Regions from separate parts of the Homo sapiens genome. Here region 1 is linked to region 2. Evidence: fine-mapped expression QTL. A gene starts in region 2. The other region holds a variant in brackets. All regions are shown on one strand. Distances are between the middles of the regions.

The links. PIP is the estimated chance that this variant, and not a neighbour inherited with it, causes the effect. A credible set is the group of variants that fine-mapping cannot tell apart.
Region 1: its variant is the best candidate, but not a certain one, in a credible set for the expression of WIF1 in cerebral cortex (GTEx, PIP 0.66).

The regions. Positions count from the first base shown.
Region 1 is chr12:64,989,657-64,994,050 of GRCh38, reverse strand. It overlaps LINC02231 (long intergenic non-protein coding RNA 2231), which reads left to right and starts at 1,760. Exons shown (of 4, transcript NR_146276.1): 1 at 1,760-1,774. It overlaps LOC107984522 (a long non-coding RNA gene), which reads right to left. Exons shown (of 2, transcript XR_001749177.2): 2 at 3,405-4,394. RefSeq lists an enhancer at 897-1,423. The variant C/G (reference allele first, on the strand shown) is at 2,579.
Region 2 is chr12:65,118,904-65,123,297 of GRCh38, reverse strand. WIF1 (Wnt inhibitory factor 1) reads left to right here and starts at 1,993. Exons shown (of 10, transcript NM_007191.5): 1 at 1,993-2,254; 2 at 2,742-2,881. The coding sequence starts at 2,107. RefSeq lists a silencer at 1,673-1,832.

The DNA.
Region 1 (4,394 bases), 130 kb after region 2:
AATGACAACACATAGTATTTGGTTTTCTGTTCCTTTGTGAGTTTGCTGAGGATAGTGGCTTCCAGCTCCATCCATGTCCCTGCAAACAACATGATCTCATTCCTTTTATGCCTGCTTAGTATTCCATGGTGTATATGTACCCCATTTTCTTTATCCAGTCTATCATTGATGGGCATTTGGGTTGATTCCATGTCTTTGCTATTGTGAATAATGCTGCAATGAACATATGTGTGCATGTATCTCTATAATAGAATGATTTATATTCCTTTGGGTATATGCCCAGTAATGGGATTGCCTACAGCTAGTTTTAAAACCATCTACAATTCAGATCGTCTTCAAGGTTTTAGCAGCATGAGATTTTTCAGTGACAGAGATTATAGCATTGCAGTTGGACCACTGTAATCATAGAAGCATCAGCATTCCTACTGCTAACATGGTATTTCAAGAGCTATAAAACTTACAGCATGCTGCAATGTGGCATGCAAAGTTAGCCACAAAGTGTATACATTTCCTAAAAAGACTCAATCACTCCATTCTTAAAAAGCAAAAATGGAAATGTAAGTAAAACTTTGTTTAGAATTCATTTAATTTAAAAAGGGTAACCTCTATTACACAATCAGACTTGGTGAATGCAAACCTTCACATGAAGAAGCAAGGTTTTTCTATAGGTATTCCATCAGAGAACCACTTTAAAAAGTACGTTTGTTGGACTTCTAGAAAACCCAATTGCTTCTCAATTCAGCATTTCCCCTTGAGAGCATTAAAAAGAGCATTTTTATAGGCCCTTATTTTCTTTCTTGGGGGAAAAATATCATCACTATCCCTGATTCTTAAAGATAATAGAGGTACTGAGTTTAATTTCCAAAAAAAAGATGGGAAATGAAGGCAAAAATCCTGACACCCAATGTTCCATACTAATGCTATTGAGTTATTTCTTATTCCCATCAGAGAGTGGACTTTAGAATGAAAACTGAGCCTGCTGTTTTATTTTTCGTTTACATTCATGTGGTGGCAGCATCTTAACTGGTGCTGCTATAGCTGAATGAGAAGCAAATACATATCAAAGCTCACTTTCCTCATGGGTAGAAAGCTATTTGACTAACAGATTTCAGCGGTGCCTTGGTGACAAGAAAAGAAAAAACCCTCCAAGGATTCTGGAGGAAGTTGAAAGGCAGGAGGTCAGGCTTCCACCTGCAGGTAGAATGAGTGTTTGCCATTTCCTCAAATTCCTTGAGACCACCCACTGGCATGAAGGATGGTGAGCAAAGCCTGGGGAATGAAGACTATCTTTCAAAAGGTGCTTCCTGGGAGATTTAAGGGAGAAAAAGAAAATAATTTGTTGGTTTGTATGTCAGCTAGCAAGGCTTTTGATCATTCAGTTGGGACAGTTCTGCCTGGAAGGGATCAATCTCTTTTTATTCCAAAGACTAACACCAACAGATACAAATCAAAGGAGGTATTCTTTCAACAAAGGAAATTGCAGAAAGGATGCCTAGGCTTAATTAAAATATAACCTTTTGTTTTAAGGACTTTTCTTTCCCTTGCAAAAGGGAATGCACTCTCTGAAGAAGCATATGCCAGCACTGGTGAGATACAGTTCTTCAACAAGTAAGGATCTGTCTACATTCGGGGCACGTCTTGGGGAAGCCTTGAAGGGAATCGTGCCTGGAGTCCCATCTGACTTAACTCATCATCACAGTCCTTCATCACAACATAATGAGTGTTATTACTTCCTCATGTGGCCTGTGGGCTTTGTTAATTAAAGAATGGAAAGGTAAGTAGTTCCAACCTTTTGCTTTTAATTAATCAAAAGATGTGTTTTCCATCTTCGTGTTGCTGGGCAGCAAGTAAAGTATTTAGTCTGCCTTCCAATACCCAGAAGAGTTCCGTGAAAAAAACTCAGCTGCTGTTTTGGGACTGCATAGACTACATAGCAGATGACTGGCTTTATCTTTTCTTTCTAAAGTTTAATTAATTGTATTGGCCAGTCTGCTGCCTACAATGTAATAGTATTTAGAGAAAAAGAAAGTATTTTCTCATATCATCTCATCAGTACAAATAAAGCCTTCTTAAACCAAAAGTTTATATCTTAGAGTTTCTTGGGCATTTACCATAGTGCTAGGTAATTAGGAGACACTCAGCACAAGGAAAGAAGTGGAACTTACATTTATTGAGTGCCTGCTATGCCAAAACTGGTGCTCTTTTTGTTATATTGTCTTGCCTTTCCGCTCATTTGACTTATTAAAACTTCTATCATTAGGGTCATTCCTCCACATTAAAACACTCTCTGCATTTTAAATAGAAACATATACCTGGAGGGAAAACACATTAATCCATGAACAAGCATCATACCTTAGCGAAGACAGTACCTCAGGGAGTGAGCAGGGCACTAGTATATTTCCTTTTGGAGGGAAGTTAGAAAAAGCCCTAAAGCTGGGGTAGCAAATCGGTTTTCTCTAGTGTGCCAGCCCTGTACAATTAGTGTTGCTGCTCCCTGGAGCTCTGCTTTGAGAATCAGGCAGGAGGCAGAGTCTTAGCTCTGCAGGAAAGAGAATTGCAATTGCCTAATGATGTCAGA[C/G]CTGCTGCATGCTTCAGTTGCTAAAAGGAAAACTTCAGACAAATTAAATTTAACAGGGTCTAATTGAACAAAGAACAATTCACGAATTGGGCAGCCCTCAAAACTAGAACAAGTTCAGAAAAACTTTGGCCTGCAATGTGGTCAGATAGCATTTATGAACAGAAGATGGAAGTGAGGTACAGAGCTCCATTGATTACAGCTGGTGTTTGCCTTATTCAGCATTTGCTTTATGTGAACATGGTGTTTTGAGTTGGCTGCCTGTGACTGACTGAAGCTCAGCTGCTGTGATTGGCTGTGACTCATTTGTGACAAAAGTATATGCCTAAGCCAGGTTTTCAGTTAGTGTGAGTACTAAGTTACATTGCATTTCATTAGTAAGGACTCAGGTATGGAGGCATTCTCAGGTCAAATTTAGTTTAACAATCCCCCCAAATTTAGTTTAACAATGCCACCTCTCAAAACCTGGGGCATTGATACCACTCTCTGTCACCATCATAAACAAACTTATTTGGTCTCAGCATGAAATTCACAAGTCATGACATCACACCAGTTGAATAATTCTTTATGTTCTTGATGATCAAGTCAAAGTGAGACCACTCAACACTCAGTGGATGGCTGCATACAAATATTTAAGACTTGAGAGGATATGGTACACCAGGGGAGCTACTATGATGACTATCAGAAGGACAACACCAAAAATTCCAAAAGCCTGAGGTGTACTCTCTAACAGGAGCCTCTGCCAACCAAATCAATTTGACCCAAATCAAAGTTCAGGCAATATAGGTGTAGCAGGACAAGATGCAGACAAAACCCCTCAGACACCGAGTTAAAGAAGGAAGCAGTTTATTCGGCCGGGAGCATTGGCAAGACTCCTGTCTCAAGAGCTGAGCTCCCTGAGTGAGCAATTCCTGCCCCTTTTAAGGGCTCACAACTCTAAGGGGGTCCACTTGAGAGGGTTGTGATCGATTGAGCAAGCCAGGGGTACATGACTGGGGGTTGCATGCACTGGTAATTAGATCGGAACAAAACAGGACAGGGATTTTCACAGTGCTTTCCTATACGATATCTGTAATCTATAGATAACATAACTGATTAGGTCAGGCATCGATCTTTAACTACCAGGCCCAGGGTGTGGCACCGGGCTGTCTGCTTGTGGATTTCGTTTCTGCCTTTTAGTTTTTACTTCTTCTTTATTTGGAGGCAGAAATTGGGCATAAGACAATATGAGGGGTGGTCTCCTCCCTTACAGGCAGCTCAAAAGCATTTGAGTACCGTTGGTCATGGTTTTTGTTCAGGAGGTGATAATGATTAAGAACTGCAGTTTGCTGATTTAAAGAGGTATCCAATGTTGTCATTATCTTGTTAACACAAGTCATAGTAATCTGGAGAACCATTAGAAGAGCATAAAGGTTAGAACACCTTGGAAAAGCCAAGCCTACCTGCAAACCAATGGTTTGCTGCTCCTATGAACATGTCATATGTTTCTTTCCTCTGAGAAATTTCCTTTATGTATTTGGTGGCAGTGTCTAAGGAAACAGGATCCAAAACTGCATGATGTTTTATTAAGTGTTTTCAAAAGATGACTTCTACTCACCTGAACCTCTGTGGGGACTGGTTGGTCAAACCCAAGATTTTTCTCATTTTATGGATTACTTTCAAATTCCATACTACCAGTACCCTGCTAGTACCAAGACTGAGCCCCCAGGAATGCCACTGGAATCTTTCCTCAGTAGAAACTAGCTTATCTTCATAAACCCAACAATTGCTCTGTTTTTTCACTACAGCATAAGACTTAGCTAAAGCCATCCACAGATTA
Region 2 (4,394 bases):
GGATTTGAACCCTTACTCTCATTTACCAGCTGGATATCCACAGTCAACTTACTGGACTTTTTGAGCCCTCTTTCCTCGTCAGTAAAATAAGAATAATAGTAGTACCTACTTAAGAGTTGTGAGGATTAAGTAAGCACTTAAAATAAAAGTACTTTAAAAATTAAGACACTGCAAGTTCAAATCAGTCATAGACTTCTTGTCTAATTCCTTTTTTCCTTTTTTTTTTTTCTATTGGTTGGTTGTATAGCTGCAAATATTTCCTCATTGGAAATCTATATTCTCAGAACCTAACACTGATTTAACTTGATGCCTGCACATGTCCACCATCTCTTCTGTTGTTTCTGTTTGTTTTTCCCTCTTGAGGCATCTGCTACTCTATAAAGGACTGATTGAAACACCACGCCCAGCCCCAGACATTTGATCCTTGAGGCATTTGTCACAGCTTCGGGTACTAAAGAACAAACACAAGTAAATGAACCTTTTATGAGTCCGAAGGCTAAGTTTTTTAATTAAAAACAAAACAAAACAAAACCCTTTTGCTTCCGTTTTCTTTGTGCATCCGAGGAATTAGGCAGGAGGCAAAAATCAGTTCTTTCTGCTGGGCCAGGTGGATAGGTTATGCTGCAGCCCACTGCCGGCCAAGCATGCTTCTCACAGACGAGGCCAGAGCCTTGGTTTTGCCCCCACGCACCTGTGAATTCGGCAACTTTTAAAAAATTATTTTATTTATTTATTTATATATTTTTTGAGACGGAGTCTCGCTCTATCGCCCAGGCTGGAGTGCAGTGCCACGATCTTGGCTTAATGCAACCTCCGCCTCCCGGTTCAAGTGATTCTCCTGCCTCAGCCTCCCGGGTAGCTAGGACTACAGGCCCCCGCCACCATGCCCAGCTAATTTTTGCATTTTTAGTAGAGACGGGGTTTCACCACGCTGGCCAAGCTGGTCTCGAACTCCTGACCTCAGGTGATCCGCCCGCCTTGGCCTCCCAAAGTGCAGGGATTACAGGCGTGAGCCATCGCGCCCGGCCGAATTCAGCAACTTTTAAAAAATATCAGCAAACGTGAAGATATCCACGATGTTAGAGGAGCCCTACCCCGGAGGGTCAGGTACAGCTATCGTCCAGGGCCCAGGGCACTCTTCCGGGCACTGCCGGGTTATCAGGGAGACAGACGGGAATCCCCAAATGCTGGGTGTCGGGCAAGTACCAGCTGGACGCCCTGCGCCTCGAGCCAAGGCCAGCGCCTGCCATCGGCACCATCGGACAGTCGAGCCTCGAGTTTTAACTGCTTGGGAGCGCGCAAAGTGCCAGCCTATCGCAGAACGGAGCGCATAGGGTTGGCGGAGAGAGGAATCCTACTGGCTGAAAGGGAGACGAAGGGCAATTTGCGCCTTCAGTGAGCGCCGGAGGAGGAACAGGAGTCATCACCTCATCATCATCATCATCATCATCATCACCATCACCATCACCATCATCAGCACTCAGTCAAGCCCAGCGTTGTCTGCTCTCCCCATTTCCCTCCCCCGAAGCCTCCCTTGGCCCGAGGAGGTGGCGAGTGATGTCCCAGGGGTCTCTGAGTGCCCTTCTCCGGGTCCGCCAGCCCTACACGCCCACTTCGCGGGCGCTCCACTGGGCGCACCGCACTGTGAATGCAGCCTCGGGGGTCCCTCGCGGCCCCGCCCCCGGGGGGGCCCCACAGCGCCCCCAAGTGGCGGCCGCCCAGGCCTCGCGGGCCCCACTCCTCGCTCGCACCTCGCTCGCGCCAGCCCTTCCCGCTCTTCTGTTCTCGCTCTATTTGCCCCGCTGACTGCTGGCCTCGCCAGCTTTGCCAGTCTTACGTCTCTGCCGCCCCCACTCCCGCCCGCGCCCCATCTTCTTGCGCGACTCGCGCCCGCTGGTCCCCCCCTCCTCCTCCCGCGTCCTGCCTGCCCCCTCCTCCTGCTCTCGCAGGCTCCTTGGCACCCAGGCCGGGAGGCGACGCGCCCAGCCGTCTAAACGGGAACAGCCCTGGCTGAGGGAGCTGCAGCGCAGCAGAGTATCTGACGGCGCCAGGTTGCGTAGGTGCGGCACGAGGAGTTTTCCCGGCAGCGAGGAGGTCCTGAGCAGCATGGCCCGGAGGAGCGCCTTCCCTGCCGCCGCGCTCTGGCTCTGGAGCATCCTCCTGTGCCTGCTGGCACTGCGGGCGGAGGCCGGGCCGCCGCAGGAGGAGAGCCTGTACCTATGGATCGATGCTCACCAGGCAAGAGTACTCATAGGTAAGGCCCCCGCCTCCAGCGCCTTCCCCTGCCTATGTCCTCCTCTCTCCACTCTTCAAGAAAGAGGGATACCTGCGTTTCTTGTGTTTTAAAACTTAATTTCCACAAAAGAGTGTTCCCCTCTTTTAATTAGATATTTTCCATCTGAAAGCTTATAAACTTCTCTTTTAAGAAACCAAAGCTGATCTAGTGTTCTGATCATGCTGTTGTTAATTTTTATAGCCCTGCGTTTTTAGGTGCACCCGGCATTTTTTTGCGTCGGTTAACTCCATGTCCATCCCTTTTCCCTGAAAGCATGGGTCTGTTGGCATCATTCTCATCATCCACAGAGAAAAATTAATCTTAGTAGCGTTGATGGTACTGAAGGCAGATGCTTGTGAACAGAAATGACCCACACTAATTCTTTGGTTTTCTTTTTGCTTGAAACTTCTGATTTAGATGATTTCAAGTCTACCTGGTTTGATCGTTTTATTATTTTAAAAACCAGGATTTGAAGAAGATATCCTGATTGTTTCAGAGGGGAAAATGGCACCTTTTACACATGATTTCAGAAAAGCACAACAGAGAATGCCAGCTATTCCTGTCAATATCCATTCCATGAATTTTACCTGGCAAGCTGCAGGGCAGGTAAGTTCTGAGAAAATTACCCTTTAATATTTCCACTGCCTTATGGCAGGTGGAAATAGTACTGTATAGTGTGTAGCCTGGTACATTTTACAGTTATTAAGAGAAATTTCTCATCTGATTGCCAAAGCAAATAAAGAATTAATTTCCATTTATTTCAAGTTGCCATATCAATTAATGATCTTCAAAAGAAAAGAACAAGCCTTGTGCCTAAGCCCATTATTTTGATAAGACTCAGTGTCCTGAGGCTGCTGGAAATATAAAGACCTCCAATACCAACATCACTGTGTTTCTGTGATCATTGACATTAAAATTTAACATACTTAAAGGACTCTTTTTGCATAGTAGTTTCTAATCACTTGTGACATTCTTCATACTTTACAACAAATTTTAAAGTTTGTAAGTATTTTTGACATTGTGCACTTTTAAAAAGTCAGTATGTTGAATGTTATTCACTGGAACGTGAATGTTGCATATTTCTGGTAGAAGTTAGACCCAAAAGGTGTCATGTAAGAACGTTATAAAATATTGCAGCCTATGTTTTCAAGTTACCATTTTAAATGCTTTCATATGGAAAAGAAAACTGGAATCTATTTTTTATGAAGAAGCATTCCTTTTATTCCTTAGCACATTAGCATCTTTTATATGTTACCTTTTGTACATTTTTATGGCTTCTAATTTTAGAAAGAAAGAATAAAATGCTTATGTAAATTTAATTTCTTTTGTACAATTGGAGAATTTACTCTAGAGGACAAATGGTAAGCAATGCATTCTTCAGCTTATTAGTTGGTAGAATGTGTCTACTATGAAAATCATTATAATTATAATTAAAACCACATTTTTCGGTCTTTTATTCTAAAGTTCCTTAAATGATTATTTTCAAGAAGAATGTGATACCGAAAACACTTTATAAAAAATAACTATTTTGAATTGAGAAACCACTTTGTTTCCCTCTAATTACCTGTTGTGGTATAGACATGACCTTTTTAGCTGTCTTTTTCCCTTCAAGTCTGTTCTCTTTTTCTTCTTCTTCTGAAATAGATCAAATCTAGAACCTTCAACACTTCCATTGCTATGTGGTTAAAAAAAATTGAGGTTTTGGATTCACTGAGGTTTATAACAGGAAAGTCATCTATTGTTAATACCCCCATTTTGCAGATAGGTTCATCGAGGTTTCCATTGCTCTATAGGGAGATTATTCCTTTTCTCCCTACAAGTCCCTCTTCATAGATACTTCATAAACAATTAAGTTGGGAATATTGTGAAATCAGTAATAAACCAACGAATGGCCTTTCATTTTCTCCTTTTCAGCTGAATCTGTTTACTTATGGCTGACCGCTCATCAGATGGTCATTAACTAAGTGGCCAATTAATTCTATATTTTTGAAAAGACATTTTTTAACCTATACCTTTATGGGTTCGTAAGAATCAATAAAAGGCAGTTTGAACTGCACCCTTCCATCTGAAAGGGTTTGGTAACTGGTTAACTGTAGGAAAAGCAGAAAGTGCCAATAGC